3 linked regions of the Homo sapiens genome follow. The protein of the gene in region 1 purifies or fractionates together with the protein of each later gene. This does not show direct contact. Each region holds a gene or a part of one and is shown on either strand. Other genes may lie near its edges.

What was found.
Region 2: the proteins of BRINP3 (region 1) and TXNDC15 purify together in Homo sapiens (affinity purification with mass spectrometry; 2 studies listed by BioGRID and IntAct, with this or other methods). This does not show direct contact.
Region 3: the proteins of BRINP3 (region 1) and ZNG1A purify together in Homo sapiens (affinity purification with mass spectrometry; 2 studies listed by BioGRID and IntAct, with this or other methods). This does not show direct contact.

The regions. Positions count from the first base shown.
Region 1 is NC_000001.11:190,453,839-190,460,867, reverse strand, and holds part of BRINP3 (BMP/retinoic acid-inducible neural-specific protein 3 isoform 1 precursor), read left to right. Parts: intron 1-5,927; 5' UTR 5,928-5,977; coding exon 5,978-6,213; intron 6,214-7,029. UniProt on the Homo sapiens protein: Inhibits neuronal cell proliferation by negative regulation of the cell cycle transition. Promotes pituitary gonadotrope cell proliferation, migration and invasion, when overexpressed. May play a role in cell pituitary tumor development.
Region 2 is NC_000005.10:134,877,370-134,884,398, reverse strand, and holds part of TXNDC15 (thioredoxin domain-containing protein 15 isoform 1 precursor), read right to left. Parts: intron 1-7,029. UniProt on the Homo sapiens protein: Acts as a positive regulator of ciliary hedgehog signaling. Involved in ciliogenesis.
Region 3 is NC_000009.12:162,029-169,057, forward strand, and holds part of ZNG1A (zinc-regulated GTPase metalloprotein activator 1A), read right to left. Parts: intron 2,421-7,029; exon of another isoform or gene 2,375-2,420; intron 2,010-2,374; coding exon 1,950-2,009; intron 442-1,949; coding exon 404-441; intron 1-403. UniProt on the Homo sapiens protein: Zinc chaperone that directly transfers zinc cofactor to target metalloproteins, thereby activating them.

The DNA.
Region 1 (7,029 bases):
ATGTACAGAACTTGAGGACAGATTGTATATGTGAGTGAGAAGGTAGGTCAAAGTCATGTTTAGGCTTAAAAATTTGAGTAGATGGAAGTATCATTTAGTGAGATAAGAAAACCAGAAAAAAGTTTGGAGAACGTTTAGTTTTCCTTGACAGAGGTATCATGTTCTAACAGAAATGGCCACAGGCAGTATGCCCTGCCTTCCACATGGCCTTCCTAAACCGGTAAGTTCCTGAGGCTAGAAGCACTATCTTTATTAAGACTTAAGGCCCACCTCTGTCTCAAAACTTATCATGATATTTTGCACATTGCAATTGATCAATAAGATTTATTTTTTTATTCTGGTTTTCTACATTATTACTTCTACCAAATTGGAATTGAAACAATTAATAAACTATAGTGGAAAAAGTATTGAAAATTTATGTTAAAATATTTTTACCTCATCTACCATTTATTTACTTACACAATTATGTATTTAGTATTCATTTATTTCATAGCTAGTATTTATTTAAATGAATAATCAAAAAATAATTATTATAGTTATATATGATTATATAATAATGCTGTAGATTTTAAACAGATTCTGGGGTACTACATATAAATATTTTATTTTATAATAAATAATTCTAACATTTATAATTTAATAGATTTAATAGAATAATATGTATCGTATTATTTGAAAGAATGTGACTTTTTAAATAGTTATTTTGAATATTGGATATTTTATTTTGAAGATTCATAGTTTTACATTTATAAGCTTCAGTATTAGTAAGCATTAATGTTAAGAAACTATTTTATAGAGCAAAGTAGTATTTGCTCAAGAGAAGAAATTTAGAGAATGGTTGCAGACATTGGGCAAATCAGCCAATTTTCTTTATACCTTTGTCCAATACTTAAAAATTTATGAGAGGGAGAGAGACAGGGAAAGAGAAAAAGAGACAGAGAGTGATAATATGGTAGAAAAAAAAGAAAACAAAACTGGTGACTCTAACTGACAGATATGTAAGAGTTTACCGTATCAGTCTTTCAGTTTTCCATGGGTTCTACATTATTCAAAATGAAAGTAAATATGTTTGATACAATGGTTTTCTGAAATGACTTTGCATATTCAAGTTCTTCAGCAGGTTTTAGTTCCTGAGAGAATATTTTGGATATGTAAGCAGCAAAAATCAGTCCAAATGCAAATACAAAAAAAGAAATGATACAGTTTGCAATGTTAATTGTTTAACAAATAGTAATAATTATCACTGGACATCTAATTCAGTTGTGGATAATAAGATACTGAGGTTTAAAAGATGCACCACTATGACATGACCCACCACTTTAAAGGATATTAAGTTTAATTCAGTGATTCCGAATATTTTGTTTATATCTTTGTAGTTTCAGTTCTACTGGAAATTCACTTTTACTGTTATAGTAAATATTTCTTTCATAAATTTCAATATTTATGAATTTCAAATATATATGATATATCAGTATTTTAGATAAAAGTAAGGTACCACCACCTTGGAATAAGACTACTGACAGCTAGTAAGAAAGAATAATCATATTTAGACTATATATTATACACATATTATTTATGCATTTATTATGTATTATATGCATTAGTATACATTAGTATATATGTAACATATTTTTGATGTATTTTATTTCTGCACAGATTGTCAAGGCCATTGAGGATTTGCAAATAAACTTGTATCATGATGTGGTCTTCACAGTTATTTTTTTTTTTTTTTGTGAGAAAGAATTTAAGAGTAGGACCTATACTAAATATCTGCTTTTCAAATAGATATTTCAATATTTATGACTTATTTTTTATGAAAAAAACCATAAATACTTAATTAAACACCATGTTTTAAACATAAAGTCATGTTTTTAATTTTGTATTGTTTTTAATGTTTTGTTTTTTTGTGTTCTTCATTCTCTTTTATTTCTCTCTTTTATATAAAATCACTCTCCCATGGTCCAGAAAATATGGTGCATTGATGTTCTCATCTCTTTAGTTGGCCAGTTAGCCTCTTGGTTATGAATATTAAATTCTGGACTATTTTGCATTTCCCCACACTATAGAAAAAGTGATAAATTCATTATTAGTTTAATAATTTCTATCCTCTTTCATTGGAACTTGTGATTTCTCTTTCTTGGCAGTATATCTAAGTTTAGCTGTTCACCTCACTTGTCACCTCAAAATATCCTAACACTACATCGTAACAAACAAACTCTATTTACTAAACCATCTCTGACACATGGATTAATATGGTTATAACCCAAACCAAATAAAGCAACCAATTAAGGTAATTCAGTAATAATTTATAAATTAGTACTCATGAAAATATGAATTAAATGTACAATGATCTACTTTTGTGACAAACCAGGTAATGAAGCTCTTCTGATGGTGAATATTGAGTTTAATTACCACTTGTCCTAAAGATGGCTAGAAGCTTACATGCTTGCCTTAGGCATTCTATTATGACTTTTCTCCCTGTCATGTAACTTGTGAAAAAAGTTCTTAAACACTATTTCAGTATAACTTTATTGGGATATCTCAATTTGTTCATTACAAAATATCTTTATAAAGTTCTTACAAATACAATGATTTTAGGATATCACCAAAATTAACTTAATTTGGGGTAAGATTGACATTCCTATGTGTTAACAAACTTTCAGAAAAAAATTATTTCTGTACAGAAGTGGGGAACATGTTCCCAAAGTCAGAAGTAGAAAAAACAGAAATAATTAAACCCCCGAATTATGTGATAATTACCTCATAATTACCTGGTAATATTGTTAGGTAGTTCTCTGCACAAAATTAAAGAAAACCTTTCTATCTTCCCATATGTTAAAATGCATAACAATGTGAAATGATGGATATGTTAAATTGTTCCACTACTGTAACCATATTACATCATGCTATACGCCTTAAATATACACAATATAGTTTTTTTTTTTTTTAATGAGGGGATATGAAGACTATGAAACAAGCTCAACACATTTGATAAAGAAAGTGATAAGAAAGTGGTTCTGGGTAATTCACCTATTGAAAAATTACAGAATTGTAGAACAGGACCTCAAATGCCATCTAGGTCAACTGTATCCTACTTTTAAAACACTTTGTGTATTACAAAAATCACATGTGTGAGTACAAAACATTTGTTTAATTTTAAGGTGTATAATGGCATGGCTTCATACCAGTATAAAATATAACTTAAAACTTTACCACATGTCCTTACCATATGGTAGGCACTATTCTAGGGATTTTACAAATATTAACTCACTCTATTTTTATAATAGACTGATGAGGTGACCTCTATAATAGTTTAGGAATCTGACGCACAAAAGAAGTTAAGTAACTTGCCTAAAGTCAAACATCTATAGCGTTAGTAGAAGGGCTGGGTGTTTTTGTTTTGTTTTTGTTTTTGTGTTTTTTTGAGACAGAGCCTCCCTCTGTTACCCAGGCTGGAGTGCAGTGGAGTCATCTAAGCTCACCGCAACCCCTGTCTCCCAGGTTCGAGAAATTCTCGTGCTTCAGCATCTAGAATAGCCAGGATTACAGATGTGTGCCACCCTGCCTGGCTAATTTTTGTATATTTTTAGTAGAGAAAGGGTTTCACCATGTTGTCCAGGCTGGTCTTGAACTCCCAACCTCAGGTGATCCGCCCTCCTCGGCCTCCCAAAGTGCTGGGATTATAGGCGTGAGCTACCGTGCCTGGCCAGGGCTAGAATTTTAACATCAGCGGTTTGGCTCTAGAGTCCATTTTTTTAACCACTATGAATATTGTCTCTTGACGTTATATATCCTAATTTGCTATATTGGTTGTTGGGTTTGGAGAAAATCTGATTTCATTTTCAAAGAACTGTTTTCCAAGTTATTTATTAGGATGAAATAAGTACTGTTTGAATTTTTTCAATAATATTCTTGTTCACATCTACATTTGTTAATAAGAGAACTTCATTTAGATGGTGTGACTGAAGTTTTATTCAATTAAGAAACACATCCTTTCAGATGATATATGTAATATGGACTTGAGTAGTGGTTTGAATAATTTATTCTGTCTTTATGAAATGAAAAATTACTCATTTAAATTAAGAAATTATATATTCTAAAAATAATGATTAAATTTTGCCCGTTTAAATGTATATGATAAGCAAAATAAAAATAGTGTGTTTAACAAAGACGAGTAATATTTTTTAGTCACAGGATTATTATACTATACCACTACACATAAGAATAATTGTGTTTATAAATGAAAGTAAGCTATATTTTAAAATAAATTGTATAGTTCTCATAAGAAAAAATATATAAAATATTTTTTCAGCAAATTTGAAAGTTAGGAGTTGAATCATTTGACAATGGTACATTTATATAGATAATAGAAAAAAGCCTAGAATCTCCAAGCTCCTATTCCAAAATTCTTCTATTATAATATTCCTTCTTATAGAAAATCATTTTTAAAATGTCTTCACTTGTAAGGCTTCCCATGTTGTTTACAAAAGACGGTACGCTTTAATCCCCTCAGTGAGCAACTCATATGATTGAGGCAACTCATACAGTATGTGAGGAATGTCCTTTTATGGATATCGTGATATTAAGAGTTCACTCATTGTATCACTGCTTTGAGCTACTTCAGAGCCCCAAAATTATTTCTCTATATCTCTCAGATAGAAATAGTTTAGGATTAAATACAAATAATGGGGTTATAGCTAGGAAAGTACATTAAAACCACCAGTGTTCTTATTCAAATACCAGAGAAATATGGTAGCTACTATTACTGATATATCTTAATACTGTAAATCTTAATCTTTTTTTCTAAAGATGTTTTGCTGAGTAAGAACTCATGCAAGTAAACCTTTCTCATTAGTCAGAATCTTTGCACTCTGTAGTGCTATGTGCTATGAATAATACAGTTTGAAAAGCTGATGAGGATAGAAAGAAAAATTGAATTCAAATATTTTTAGAATTTTCTGGTGTAGCATATAGACATTGCATCAGCAGCTTTGCATAAAGTGTCTTACACTGTACCATACTGGGATTATACGTCTTATTACTTTTTTTTGAATGATTATACTACAATGTATGCAGTTTCAAAGTCTATGAATAGTCTGCATTAGCTTAATTTATGTGCATATAATTTTGGAGGTATGACTTTCTTATGAATAAGACAGATGCACATTTAAATCTTTAAAGACCCTAGAAATAATGTAATTATGATTTTGTTTAAATAATCAGATATGCAGTTTTTTCCTAACAGAATAATGAAAAAAAATCTGGGAAAAGACATTACTCCTCACATCCACTCTCACACACACACATCTGTTCATGTATCAGTCTGTCTTTCTATCATCTCTCTGTCTCACTCTGTGTCTGTCTCTATATCTATATATATCTATAATAGGTATACACACATATACACACATATACATACATATATTTATGTATTCTTAAATCCACAGTTTTACTCCGTGTTTATGTAGATTATGGAAATAACTACATGAATATCTTTGCTTCATTTAAAGCATTTATTTAAGATAAATATACAATAAAATTAAATCTAGTATTAAAATTTGTAACACAATTTATGAAATATATGAAATACTTGAACTTATTAATTATTTATTTGCATCAGTCCAACTTTATAAAACATTCAACTTCTGATTTTTGCTCAATAGGCTTTAATGATCCACTGAATAAAATTGTTATGACAAAGTCTGTTATGACTCAATGTCTTATTTTCCATTAATATAAAAAAGGAACAAAGTATAAAAGATATACAGCTCTAAAAAAATAATTTTGGTTTGTATTTTATTATCTGCTGATAATACTAATTTAAAACAATGATATTAGATTAAAATTTAAAATTAGCCACCTCAACACCTTAACTGAGAGAAAGGAATCTTCTAGGAGTTAACTAATTGCCTGTGTATTTTGTCTAGGTGTTGAGGGAAAGCTGAGAGAATGAAGGCTCTAAATCCCCAGTGGAAGCATGATATGGCGAAGCAGAGCTGGTGCTGAATTGTTCTCTCTGATGGCTCTATGGGAGTGGATAGCACTGAGTCTTCATTGCTGGGTTTTAGCGGTTGCTGCTGTTTCGGATCAGCATGCCACAAGCCCCTTCGACTGGCTCCTCTCTGATAAGGGACCCTTCCATCGCTCACAGGAATACACAGATTTTGTGGACAGAAGCCGGCAGGGATTTAGCACAAGATACAAGATATACAGGTATGAAGCAAAGGGAAAGCAATTACAGAAATATCATCCTTGAAGGTTGTGTATACATAAGTTTCTCTAAGGGAAAGTTTCAGACGGGAAAAAGGTATTATCAGAAGGGTTGTTATTTACCATGCACCATAGTAATGTTTTCTTGCTATTCAAAGTATTTCTTATAGATGTAATATATTATGATAAAAACAGATAATGGTGACCACTTGTCTATCACTCCCAAATTTAAGCATGCTACACTGCCTTAAAGTAAATGGCAATGTATTTGGAAGCCGAGTTTCTTATTTTAAATAGCCAAAATTTTAAAGTGAAATTTAAAAAATTGCTTTTCCTTTCTACCTTATACAATGCTATGTTACCTTTTTCAGCCTAAATGGAAATGGTATCTTCTACTAGTCACTGAGAAGTTGAGTCACCTCATCCTTTTTTACCTGAAAGGTAATTGTACGTTCAGAAGCTAAAGGAAACAGCAATGGAATAAAAACAAGTAGCAGATAAATAGGACATGATAGCAAAGATCAAAGAAATGGATGGGATAAAGATATATGATCTTTAACATCTATCAATGTTCTATGTTTAAAATCTAAATAAGTTACACAAAAAGAGTAATATATTAAATTCAACAAAGGTTGCCTGTTCACCTGATGTCCCGTGAATACATTAAGTAGAAGAGTGTACAAGTGGTTGCCTGATGGATTAGATTATATTGATCTATGCCATGAAGAACATTTTATGTGAAGCTATCACTTCAATTTGTTTATTGGTGATAGACTTTTACAATTCCTAGTTAATGGTTTAACATTTATAAAGAAGCAC
Region 2 (7,029 bases), on another chromosome or scaffold:
CGCATGCTTGTAATCCCAGCTTTTTGGGAGGCTGAGGCAGGAGAATCGCTTGAACTTAGGAGGCAGAGGTTGTGGTGAGCCGAGATAGTGCCATTGCACTCCAGCCTGGGCAACAAGAGCAAAACTCTGTCTCGGGAAAAAAAAAAAGATCAAATTGTACCCTTTTTTTTTTTTTTTTTGAAACTGAGTCTTGCTCTATCGTCCAGGTTGGAGTGCAGTGGCACAATCTCAGCTCACTGCAGCCTCCACCTCCCGGGTTCAAGCAATTCTCCTGCCTCAGCCTCCCAAGTAGCTGGGATTATAGGTGCCTGCCACCACACCTGACTAATTTTTGTATTTTTTAGTAGAGATGAGGTTTCGCCATGTTGGCCAGGCTGGTCTCGAACTCCTGACCTCGGGTGATCCTCCCGCCTCGGCATCCCAAAATGCTGGGATTGCAGGCATGAGCCACCGCGCCTGGCTTTCTTTCCTTTTTTTTTTTTTTTGAGATGGAGTCTCCCTTTATTGCCCAGGCTGAGTGCAGTGGCACCATCTCGGCTCACTGCAACCTCCACCTCCCAGGTTCAAGCAATTCTCCTGCCTCAGCTTCCTGAGTAGCTGGGATTACAGGCACCCACCACCACACCCAGCTAATTTTTGTATTTTTTTAGTAGAGATGGGGTTTCGCCATATTGGTCAGGCTGGTCTCAAACTCCTGGCCCCAAGTGATCTGCCTGCCTCAGCCTCCCAAAGTGCTGGGATTACAGGTGTGAGCCAGCGAGCCACCAGGCCTAGCCTTTTTCTTTTCTTTTTTTTTTTTTTTTTTTTTTTTGAGACAGGGTCTCGCTCTGTCACCCAGGCTGGAGTACAGTGGCACAACCACCTCCCGGGTTCAAGCGATTCTACCACCTCAGCCTCCCAAGCAGCTAGGATTACAGGCATGAGCCACTGCACCCAGCTAATTATTTTGTCTTTGTTTTTTTGGTTTTTTTTGAGACAGAGTCTTGCTCTGTAGCACAGGCTGGAGTGCAGTGGCACGATCTCACTCACTGCTACCTCCTCCTGGGTTCCGGTTCAAGGAATTCTCCTGCCTCAGCCTCCTGAATAGCTGGGATTACAGGCATGTGCCACCATGCCCAGCTAATTTTTGTATTTTTAGTAGAGACGGGGTTTCATCATGTTGGCCAGGCTGGTCTGGAACTCCTGACCTCGTGATCCACCCACCTTGGCCTCCCAAAGTGCTGGGATTACAGGCGTGAGCCACCATGCCCAGCCTAATTATTTTGTATTTTTGCTAGAGATGGGGTTTTGCCATGTTGGCCAGGCTGGTCTCAAACTCCTGGCCTCAAGTAATCTGCCCGCCTCAGCCTCCCAAATTCTGGGATTACAGGCATGAGCCACCGTGCCCAGCCCAAATCGTACTTTTAAAGACGTAAATTATAATAACTACAATGTCTGAGATGAAAATTGCACTCTATAAGAATAATGGTAAAGTAGACAATACGGAAGAAAATAGTCAACTTGAAGATAGCAATAGAACCTGTCCAGCTCTCCCTCTCCCTCTCCCCCTCCCCCTCTCCCTCCTCTTTCCACGGTCTCCCTCTGATGCCGAGCCGAAGCTGGACTGTACTGCTGCCATCTCGGCTCACTGCAACCTCCCTGCCTGATTCTCCTGCCTCAGCCTGCCGAGTGCCTGCGATTGCAGGCGCGCGCCGCCACGCCTGACTGGTTTTCGTATTTTTTGGGTGGAGACGGGGTTTCGCTGTGTTGGCCGGGCTGGTCTCCAGCTCCTAACCGCGAGTGATCCGCCAGCCTCGGCCTCCCGAGGTGCCGGGATTGCAGGAGTCTCCTTCACTCAGTGCTCAATGGTGCCCAGGCTGGAGTGCAGTGGCGTGATCTCGGCTCGCTACAACATCCACCTCCCAGCAGCCTGCCTTGGCCTCCCAAAGTGCCGAGATTGCAGCCTCTGCCCGGCCGCCACCCTGTCTGGGAAGTGAGGAGCGTCTCTGCCTGGCCGCCCATTGTCTGGGATGTGAGGAGCCCCTCTGCCTGGCTGCCCAGTCTGGAAAGTGAGGAGCATCTCTGCCCGGCCGCCATCCCATCTAGGAAATGAGGAGCGCCTCTTCCCGGCCGCCATCCCATCTAGGAAGTGAGGAGCGTCTCTGCCCGGCCACCCATCGTCTGAGATGTGGGGAGCGCCTCTGCCCTGTCGCCCCGTCCGGGATGTGAGGAGCGTCTCTGCCCGGCCACCCCGTCTGAGAAGTGAGGAGCGTCTCTGCCCGGCCACCCCGTCTGAGAAGTGAGGAGACCCTCTGCCTGGCAACCGCCCTGTCTGAGAAGTGAGGAGCCCCTCCGCCCAGCAGCCACCCCGTCTGAGAAGTGAGGAGCCCCTCCGCCCGGCAGCCACCCCGTCTGGGAAGTGAGGAGCGTCTCCACCCGGCAGCCACCCCGTCCGGGAGGGAGGTGGGGGGGTCAGCCCCCCACCTGGCCAGCCGCCCCGTCCGGGAGGTCAGGGGCGCCTCTGCCCGGCCGCCCCTACTGGGAAGTGAGGAGCCCCTCTGCCTGGCCAGCCGCCCCGTCCGGGAGGGAGATGGGAGCGTCAGCCCCCCGCCCGGCCAGCCGCCCCGTCCGGGAGGTGAGGGGCGCCTCTGCCCGGCCGCCCCTACTGGGAAGTGAGGAGCCCCTCTGCCCGGCCACCACCCCGTCTGGGAGGTGTACCCAACAGCTCATTGAGAACGGGCCATGATGACAATGGCAGTTTTGTGGAATAGAAAGGGGGGAAAGGTGGGGAAAAGATTGAGAAATCGGATGGTTGCCGTGTCTGTGTAGAAAGAGGTAGACATGGGAGACTTTTCATTTTGTTCTGTACTAAGAAAAATTCTTCTGCCTTGGGATCCTGTTGATCTGTGACCTTACCCCCAACCCTGTGCTCTCTGAAACATGTGCTGTGTCCACTCAGGGTTAAATGGATTAAGGGCGGTGCAAGATGTGCTTTGTTAAACAGACGCTTGAAGGCAGCATGCTCGTTAAGAGTCATCACCACTCCCTAATCTCAAGTACCCAGGGACACAAACACTGCGGAAGGCCGCAGGGTCCTCTGCCTAGGAAAACCAGAGACCTTTGTTCACTTGTTTATCTGCTGACCTTCCCTCCACTATTGTCCTGTGACCCTGCCAAATCCCCCTCTGCGAGAAACACCCAAGAATGATCAATAAAAAAATAAATAAATAAATAAATAAATAAATAAAAAGAACCTATCCAAAATGAAACACACAGGAAAAAAAAAAAGAATGGAAAGAAATTAAGAGCATCAGTGGGCCGTAGGACAATTTCAAGTGGTCTAATGTACAGTAACTGGAGTACTGGCAAGAGAAGAGAGTGGAGGAACAGAAAAATATTTGAAGAAATTATAGCCAAAAACTTTCCAAACTTGGTGAAAACTATAAATCCATAGATCTAAGAAGCTCAACAAAACCCAAACTCAATGAACTACAACAAAGCACATCACAATCAAATTGCTCAAAACCAGTGACAAAGAAAAAAATCTTTAAAGCAGCCAGAGGAAAAAAAACAAAACATCATGTAGAGAGGAACAAAGGATAACAACAGGTTTCTCACTGGAAACAAAGCAAGCAAGAGTGCGACTCCATCTCAAAAAAAAAGAAAAAAATGATTTTGGCTGGGCATGGTGGCTCACGCCTGTACTCCCAGCACTTAGGGAGACCGAGGCAGGTGGATGACTTGAGGTCAGGAGTTCCAGAACAGCCTAGCCAACATGGTGAAACCCTGTATCTACTAAAAATACAAAAAAAAAAATTAGCCTGGCATGGTAGCGGGCGCCCGTAATCCCAGCTGCTCGGGAGGCCGAGGCAAGAGAATCGCTTGAACCCAGGAGGTGGAGGTTGCAGTGACCTGAGATAGTGCCACTGCACTCCAGCCTGGGCTACAGAGCGAGACTCCATCTCAAAAAAAAAAAAAATAATAAGTGAAATAAATACTTCTTCACTTCTTCAGACATACAAAAGATAAAAGAATTCATTACCAGCGAACCCACATGACAAAAATCTTCAAGGAACTCCTTCAGGCAGAAGAAAAATGTTAACAGATGGAAATATGGATCCACATAAAGAAATAGAGAAACCAAAATGGTAACTACATGGATAAATATACACAATTCTTTCCAAAAATCTAGCTATAAAGGGGGCGAGGAAGGTAGGGTAGATTCGCTACAGGCAAGGAAGACTAAGGGAGGTTTCTATTTTGCTATTTGGAACATAGGAGCAATCTGAGGATACACAAAGCTGATGAGAAAGCAGGTAAGAAGGGGCTGGGCGCGTGGCTCACACCTGTAATCCCAGTACTTTGGGAGGCCAAGGAGGGCGGATCCCTTGAGGTCAGGAGTTCGAGACCAGCTTGGCCAACATGTTGAAATCCCGTCTGTACTAAAAATACAAAAATTAGCCAGATGTGGCGGCATGCACCGGTAATCCCAGCTACTTGGGAGGCTGAGGCAGGAGAATCACTTGAACCTGGGAGGCAGAGGCTGCAGTGAGCCGAGAATCACGCCACTGCACTCCAGCCTGGGTGACAGAGCAAGGCTCTGTATCCAAAAAAAAAAAAAAAAAGGCAGGTAAGAAGGGAGAGGTGGCAATGGAGGTTACATAGGACAGAGTTTAAGGCTTGGGCAGCAAAGTGAGTCTTTAGCAGAAGGTCAAGCACTTCTGTGACTACAATCCAGAGAAGCGGCTGGGTGCCTGGGAAGGGAGCTTTGCCAAATTGGTGGAGGGGCGGGATCACATTGGCGGTATTTCTATAGCCTTTTATTTCTATAGCCTTTGGTTAATGAGTGTGTATTGCCTGTATGATCAGAAGAAAAAACAAACACACATGTTTTCTGTGTCAGCCACAAGACAAAGCAGGAAATGAAGCCAGAGAGGCTAAGAGTCTGGAAAAGAAAGGATGCCAGGTTTGGGGTCCAACCCAACTCCCAAACACCACAGTTCTTCAGAGATTTGCTCTTGCTACCTAATCAACATTCTAGATTCCACAAGTAAATGAAGAATGCCAAAACGAAGAACCTCAGGATAAAAAAATCAGGGCACAAATTTTAATCTGGTTCTCTCTGATGACCCTCAGATAGCCCCTGCACAAAATCAAAAGGGAATGTAAGTGGTGCATGGAGCTGGTATTTTAAGTTCAAGAGTGTTGTCCCCTCCATCCCCCTGCACATTGTAAAAATATTTAAGTACACAGTACAGATTAGGAACAAAAAAATCTTATGCCTTCAGGTACCAACGTTTTCATTTAGGAATTAGGAAGAAAAGAAACACTGAATTATTCCACACGAAAATAAAAATGTCATACTATGTGACAGTCATTGAACCCTCCCTTGGTAATGTGCTTTTATTTTTTATTTTCTTTGAGACAGAGTCTTGCTCTGTTGTCCGGGCTGGAGTGCAGTGGCACGATCTCAGCTCACTGCAGCCTCCATCTCCTGGGTTCAAGCAATTCTCCTGCCTTAGCCTCCCAAATAGCTGGGATTACAGATGCGCACCACCACACCTGGCTACTTTTTTTATTTTTAGTAGAGATGGGGTTTCACCATGTTGGCCAGGCTGGTCTCAAACTTCTGGCCTCAAATGATCCAGCCACCTCGGCCTCCCAGTGTGCTGGGATTACAGGCGTGAGCCACTGCACCCGACTGGTAATGTGCCTTTTAAGAGACTGCAGTTTGAGCTATACATAAAGTGATAATTATTGCATCACTGGCAGCAAAGAAGTTGTCTGAAGGACAAGTGTGAGGGCACCATGCCAATTCTGCCAGGGAGCCCTAGCCTAGGTCAGCACCTTCACACCCTTCCAGCTTTTCTCAGAAGGCTCTTTACCAGCTGCAGGTGTTTTCACAATGGCTTCTGGCAGGAAAGGCAAATGAGGAGGGACCAAAAACAGTCAAGGGTTGGAGGGACAGCAATCCATACTTTCCATAGGCAATACTGTGTGCTCATTTAGCAAATGGAGACAATACCACCAAAATGTAGAAAATTATGAGGCTACTGTGAAGATTAAATGAGAAAAGATGTGTATGGTCCCTGCCACAGGTTAAACACTCCATAAATGGCTGTGGTGATGATGATGATTATGATGAGTGGTGTTTACAATTCAAAGAGATGGAAAGGCACAATAACTAAGTTCTATTAATTAACCTGCACACTGGGCTTGCTGGTTCATACCTGTAATCCTAACACTTTGGGAGGCCAAGGCAGGCAGATTACTTGAGGTCAGGAATTCAAGACCAGCCTGGCCAACATGGTGAAACCCCATCTCTACTAAAAAATACAAAAATTAGGCCAGGCGCAGTGGCTCACGCCTGTAATCCCAGCACTTTGGGAGGTCAAGGCGGGCAGATCACCTGAGGTCAGGAGTTCGAGACCAGCCTGGCCAACATGGCGAAACCCCATCTCTACTAAAAATACCAAAAATTAGCCGGGGTGTAGTGACGGGTGCCTGTAATCCCAGCTACTCAGGAAGCTGAGACAAGAGAATCGCTTGAACCCGGGAGGCAGAGGTTGCAATGAGCCAAGATCGCACCATTGCTCCAGCCTGAGCAACAAGAGCAAAACTCCATCTCAAAAAAAAAAAAAAAAATTAGCCAGGCATGGTGGCGCATGCCTGTAATCCCAGCTACTCGGGAGGCTGAGGCAGGAGAATCATTTGAACCCAGGAGGTGGAGGTTGCAGTGAGCCAAGATGGTGCCACTGCACTCCAGCCTGGGTGACAAGAGCAAGACTCCTTCTCAAAAAGAAAAAAAAAAATTTCACCTGCTAAACACATTCACAATCCATCTACTTTCCCCATCCCAACTAACACTTCTCAGCAAAGGCCACAGCCAATTCTTGTCTGGGCAACTACTGTAGCCACCTAAACTGGTCTCCCTGGTCAGCCTGCTATCCCCCCTCCAGACCCTGACCTTCACAGCAATACAAGTGAAACTGAAAGATAAAAGGCATATCTGATCATGTCACTCCCCTGCTAAAACTCTTTCAGTGGCTT
Region 3 (7,029 bases), on another chromosome or scaffold:
AAAACTCATTTCCAGTGTGTGTTTAATAGTAATTTAACAAGAAAAATAAGATCTCAGATGCTTTATCAAGCTCAGCTTCTTCTATGGAACAGAAAAACTTACCAATATTGGGGTTGAATCCTTGTGAAGAGTTATACATACCAAACTCTACCCTAACCCCATATGCTTATTACAAATTATAATTCCAAATTTTATCACCAAATCAAACTCAGAGTAATAGAAAAGAAATATTTAACACAAACTAATAATTAAAACACAAATTTCACCTATTGTTCAGGATATCTTTTTGAGAAAGGTTTTTGTTAAAGAAAATTTCAGATACAAACATAAAGAAAATTAAACAATCAATCCCCATATTCCCAGCTCTCAATAATGACCCACTCATAGCAATCTTTCAACTTACTTTTAATCCATATTTTGAATCCACAATAGTTATGATACCTACAAAGGAAAAAACATTTTAATCACTTTTTAAAAAGAATGTTTATTAATATTTGTACAACCATACTTCAAAATGAAAATTAAAACTAACCTATTTCAGTTCACAAATACTACTCAATAAAACAATGTACTGTTTTTTTCTCTTGCCAGTGCTGCCATTTAATTAAATTCCAGTAATAAGTCAATGCATTTCCTGAGTGGCTAGCACTATTTTAAGGCACTAGAAACGATATAAAACAAATAAAAATTTTAAATTAAATAAATAAGAAAATAAGATTTCCTTGGCACTGAAAAAGCTTACAATCCAAAATATAAGTCAAATTTCATAACATAGTCAAATGTGATAAGTACATAAGACAGGTTATTTCTAGTTTATTTTCACATAATCAAAATCAAGACTTTTCTTAAGATTTAAATTATTGCCTAAAGAATGAGACATCTTAAGGTATCATTCCTAACATCTCTCACCAAATCCAAATCCAACTCATAAATGTTCTACATAACATATGCCTAAGTTTCCAAACTACCAATTCATTTTGCAATCTCTGAATATATGCTGATAACAAAAGAATGAGTTTAATTATGCCTAAGGAATTCAACCAGTTACCCGCCACATATATTAGAGCTCAATGATGGGGCCCAGCTTAATAATTCTTAAATTTCTTAATGATTATTACTTTTGAAAAAGTAAGAAAATTTCGACTGAGAAAGGGAGAAAACATAGTCGCTTAACTAAGAAAGTTTCTAATATATTTTAAATGAAGGCATATCATTGCCCAAAAGTGTTCAGGTAAATAAAGTAAGACAGGAGTGTTTAATTCTTATCTTCAAGAGAAAATAAAAGCAAAAATATGATCCTCATATTGCCTGGAGGATTAAAATAAAAGGCTCTAACATTATATTAAGGGCATAAATCAAACAACAGAGGATACAGAAAACCTACAAAGCATTTTTTTTTTTAAAGAAAACCTTAGTGGAAGCACTAAATTGGAAGTTGAGTGACATCGAGTTCCACCACTGTCTGGGGTTTTTTAATCTATATGAACAAAGATTTCATCATTAAACTAAAGTGTGAAAAGAACAACAATGCAAGGAATTAAAGTTATAATATGAATGAACAACAACAATAAGCTTAACCATAAAGATTTTACTAAAAAACAAAAGAGGCAGGGTGTGGTGGCTCACGCCTGTAATCCCAGCACTTTGGGAGGCCGAGGCTGGCGGATCACCTGAAGTCAGGGGTTCAAGACCAGTCAGGCCAACATGGCGAAACCCCGTCTCTACTAAAAATCCAAAAATTAGCCAGGTACGATGGTGCACGCCTGTAGTCCCAGCTACTCGGGAGGCTGAGGCAAGAGAATCACTTGAACCCAGGAGGTAAAGGTTGCAGTGAGCCGAGATCATGCCACTGCACTCCATGCACTCCAGTCTGGGCAACAAAGTGAGACTCTGTCTCAGAAAAAAAAAAAAAAACAAGAAAGATAAAAGAAAACTGTTTTTTAACTTACCATCAAGATAAATATCACTCCCTAATTCAGCATCAACCCAAAACATAGAAGCCACTGCACCTGAAAATATATAATATTCATCAAATAAAAATATTTCTTCACACTGAGAAACATGATTCTATCCATGTTTTAATTTGCCCTGATAAAATTAACAGGTAAACACATATATCTTCTTATGGAAATTATAGTGATAGAAGCTTTAACTATTTATAGCAAAAGGGAATTATAGTGATAGAACCTTTTACTATTTATACCCATTCCATTTCCATCTCTCTTGTTATTTCCTTTAAAAAAGACCAATTCTAACCACATATAAACAAAACATCATTCTTCTACCGATGCCATAATAATTTAATTAACAGATATTATCAAACAATTTGAGCAGTATGGCTTTGTGCACATCAGACTTATTTTTATTTTCTCACCTCTTTAATATGATAATCATTCAATCATAAATAGTGAATTATCACTCTAAAGGAAAAGGAAAACAAAACATAGATAATTCCAAAATCACTTGCCCAAAAAAAATTTACTTGTAATCTGTGTAGAACTAGAAGTAAAATTATATACTCTATGGCATTACTAATTATTCCTCACACTATTTATTTAGTACTGTATAAAACCTGGGTCTTAGGAAAAATTTTTCCTAAATAATAAATTAAAACTTGCTTTTGACAGAAATTGGTTCAGTACCAAACCACATACCCTGATTAGTATGCCACAACGCAAGAAAAAGAAAACTGACAGCAAGGAAAGTATTTGATTTTTGAAAGCATCACAGGCCCAGTTAGTGACAGGGCTGTCTAAAAGAATGAGTGTAGGAGAAAAACAAGGATAATCAAACTCATTCCAGCGTCTAAAGCTGTCCACCTACTCTGCCAAGATGTGGTCCCCCAAGCATCACTCGGTGTCAACAATGAAATACCTGTCAGCTGTTTACAGTGATTACTCATGCAAGATATAGCAAGGGCCACAAGATCTAATGGTTTCCTGATACCTATTGATTTTTTTCCCAAAAACTTAATAGTTTTCCAATTTGACTCAAATAGGATTTGTGAGTAACAGGGGCTGAATCAATGTCTGTTCTTTTCAAGGAAATTACTTTACCATGACAATTATTTAACTTAGAACTGGAGCGTGTCAGTCTCCAAAACGGGAAACAACTGAATTGCCAATAAGAATTTTGTTCACTTTCTTGGCTAAAACATGATTTTAATTAATGAGGGGGGAAATTAAATCTACTGTATCACTACTCCAAACAATAAGTCATTTAAAAAAGCATGAATTTTTTCACTCAGTAAAATATCTAACATACATAAATCATTTTGTAATTTTTAAAAATTCATTGATTTTTATTCCAATAAATAGTTTACAAATCCTACTGTTAATATTTGCCTCTTAAGTTGAAATGTAAGAGTATATTAATGCTTTATTCTAAAACTGGTATTTATCTTTGATATAATACTTGCCAGACTACATGAGAAAGATCTATTTAAAATTTGGATGTAGGTATTTAGGGGGAGTAAAGATGAATGAACAAAATTGATCAGTGGCTCTCAAATCAGGGTGCTTTTCTCCCCAGGGAATATTTGGCAATGTCTGAAGATGTTTTTGGTTGTCTTAACTAGGGGAATGCTACTGGCATCTAGTGGGTAGAAGCCAGGGATGTTGTTAAATATCCTACTCTGCACAGGGCAACCCCCTCACAACAAATAATTATCCAACCCAAAATGTTATTTGTGCTGACACTGAGAAAACCTGAACTACATTTTAGAATCTCCCTTCTTCAAAATCTAATAAAACAAAAAATAAAAACAAAAAATAAAACAAAAAGGCCAACATTTTATTAGCAGCAACCAAATATAAAAGGGCCTGCCATAAATTTTGAAGACTGATAGTCAAAATAAGAAACAAAGTTATATGTGATTGATGGTCATTCCCAACTCTACCCCTACCTCCAATAAGAGGTTGTAGGGAAATAGTTTACAAAATCCTAAACACTTACCAGAAATACACTCCAAAATGACAAAAAGTAGAGCCGAGGAATGAATAAGCAACACAAGGAAAAGTCAACAAAAAAATTTCAAGAGTGAGTTTTAACCATCTCTTTGCTTTGGGAAGGAGAAGGTCAGGTCACATTCTAGGGCTCAGAACAAAGAGAAATGAGAGCTCTGAGGTCGAATGATGTCCCCATACAAGGCAAAGGAATTTTATTCATAAGCAGTTGGGCAGACCCAAGAGTGAAATACTTGGTACTTCAAGAGAGCAGAGCCTAAAAGCCACATTGCCCCATTTGGCTCTCTGAATCACCACTTTTCCCTTCTCTTTCCCTCCACTCCAACAATATACAGCTTTCAAACTAGGGCTCAGGAGAAAAACAAACTTGGGTAAGGAGAGTGGAGTATTAAAAATATTTCCCATCAGCACCACATAGAAGTTCTCCCACATCAAGAAGAAACATGTATGCATATGTATTACAGCCTGACAAAAAGAAACACGCACATACAGGGAATAAAAAGCAAGAAAGAACACAAAATGAAGAAATGAATAGGGCACACAAGTGGCAAAGAACCCATTCTGGAAGGATACATAACCCAATAAAAACTAAAGAAAATTCTCAACAACTTCATCATAATGAAGAACTTGAAAACAATACAACCTTATAATAAACAAGCTCAAAAGCAAGAAGAAGCAGAATAAGATGAAAATGCGTTTGTAGCGCTAAAGAAACTTAGAGCCTATATAACACAATGACTTAACCAATTAATTCATTTAAAATATCAAAAACAGGACAGACACTGGAGAAAACAGAATTATTGACAAAAAGAAAGGCTTCAGATGATCACAGTAAATGCAAAGGTAAAAGACAAATCAAAGCAATTAGAATACATACGAACAACAAAAGAAAATTCAGTATTAAAAAAACTGGTGTCATGAAGTAGAGGATCTAATAATTTGACCAAAAAAAAGTATTCATGGTAATAAACAAGGAAAATGTTCTTAGAAGAACTAAGGGCATACTATAATTTAGGGAAAAATGATTATAAGTGACACTTAGATATACCTTGTTTATATTACTGAATTTCAAAAATAAAGAAGAAAACTCTCAGGCATTTTAGATTAAAAAAAAAAATTGCCTTCAAGGAGGTAGGGAGAAAAATCAGACTTTTCTACAGTAACACTAGATGTCCCAAAATAATAAAACAGGGACCACAAAGTTCTAATGAAAGTGTTCCCAAACAAGTTATTTTTCAGGAACGAAAGCAATAGACAGACATTCTCAAGCATTAAAGAAAACAGCAAGCATTGAAACTCAGAGACTATAATACTCACAAATTCTTCCTAATAAAAAGAGAAAACATTGGACAAAGAAATCCAGCCAATCAAACACTAGGAGATTATGGAACAACATTTACAAAGTTGAGGGGGAATAAAGTGTGACTGATAAATTTTATACCTAGCCAAGTAATCCTTCAAGTAATATAAAAACAAAAGACAAATATTTTGAATCAATGAAGTGTATAAGAACCCAAAGAATGCATGCAGTACCTGTAACTTGAAAAGACTGCCTGACAATGAAATTCAATCAGGAGATGGACTAACTCGGGAATGGAGAAGCAACAGTACTGGTAATAAGCACCAAAACTATTAAAACATAGAACTAAAAGAATTATGACAGAACCATGACAACATAAAGAATATGATCAACATGAAACTAGGCCAATTAATATCCTACAATGGCCTGTAAGTGTTCAAGTGAAAGGAACAGTCACCTGTTTCTCACTTTAAATCAAGAGCTAGAAATGATTATGCTTAGTGAGGAAGTTATGTTGAAAGCCAAGATACGCCAAAAGCTAGGTCTCTTGAGCCAGTTAGCTAAGTTGTGAATGCAAAGGAAAAGTTCTTGAAGGAAATTAAAAGTGCTACTCCAGTAAACACACAAATGATAATAAAACAGCCTTATTGCTGATATGAAGTGGTCTGGATAGATGATCAAACAAGCCACAATGTTCCCTTAAGCCAAAGCCTAATTCAGAGCAACCCTAACTCTCTTCAGTTCTATGAAGGCTGAGAGAGGTGAGGAAGCTAGAGAAGAAAAGTTGGAAGGTAGCAGAGGTTGGTTCACAAGATTTAAAGAAAGAAGCCATCTCCATAACATAAAAGTGCAAGGGAAAGCAGCAAATGCTGATATAGAAGCTGTAGTAAACTACCTAGAAGATGTAGCTAACATCATTCATGAAAGTAGCTACACTAAGCAACAGACTTATTTTTTATTTATTTATTTATTTATTTTGAGATGGAGTCTCGCTCTGTCACCCAGGCTGGAGTGCAATGTGCAATCTCAGCTCACTGCCACCTCCGTCTCCCGGGTTCAAGCCATTCTCCTACCTCAGCCTCCCAAGTAACTGGGATTACAGGCTCCCACCACCAAGCCAGGCTAATTTTTGGTATTTTTAGCTGAGATGGGGTTTCACTATGTTGGCCAGGCTGGTCTTGAACTCCTGAACTCGTGAACTGCCCACCTCGGCCTCCCAAAGTGCTGAGATTACAGGCATGAGCCACCGAGCCCGGCCAGCAACAGATTTTTAATGGAGATGAAATGGCCTCCTTTTGGAAGAAGATGCCATTTAGGACTTTCATAGCTATAGAGAAGTCAATGCCTGGCTTCAAAGATTCAAAGGACAGGCTGACTCTCTTGTTAGAGGCTAAAGCAGCTGGTGACTTCAAGTTGAAGCCAATAATCATTTACTATCCTAAAAATTCTAGGGCCATTAAGAATTATGCTAAATCTCCTCTGCCTGTTTTCTATAAATAATAAAGCCTAGATGACAGCACATCTGTTTACAGCACGGTTTAGTTTAAGCCCACCATTGAGATCTACTGCTTAGAAAAGAAAAGATTCCTTCAAAATATTATTGCTCATTGACAACGCACCTGATCACCCAAGAGCTGTGATGGAGATGTACAAGATTAATGTTGTTTTCATGCCTGCTAACACAACATCCATTCTGCAGCCCACTGATCAAGGAGTAACTTTGACTTTTAAGTCTTATTTAAGAAATATATTTCATAAGGCTAT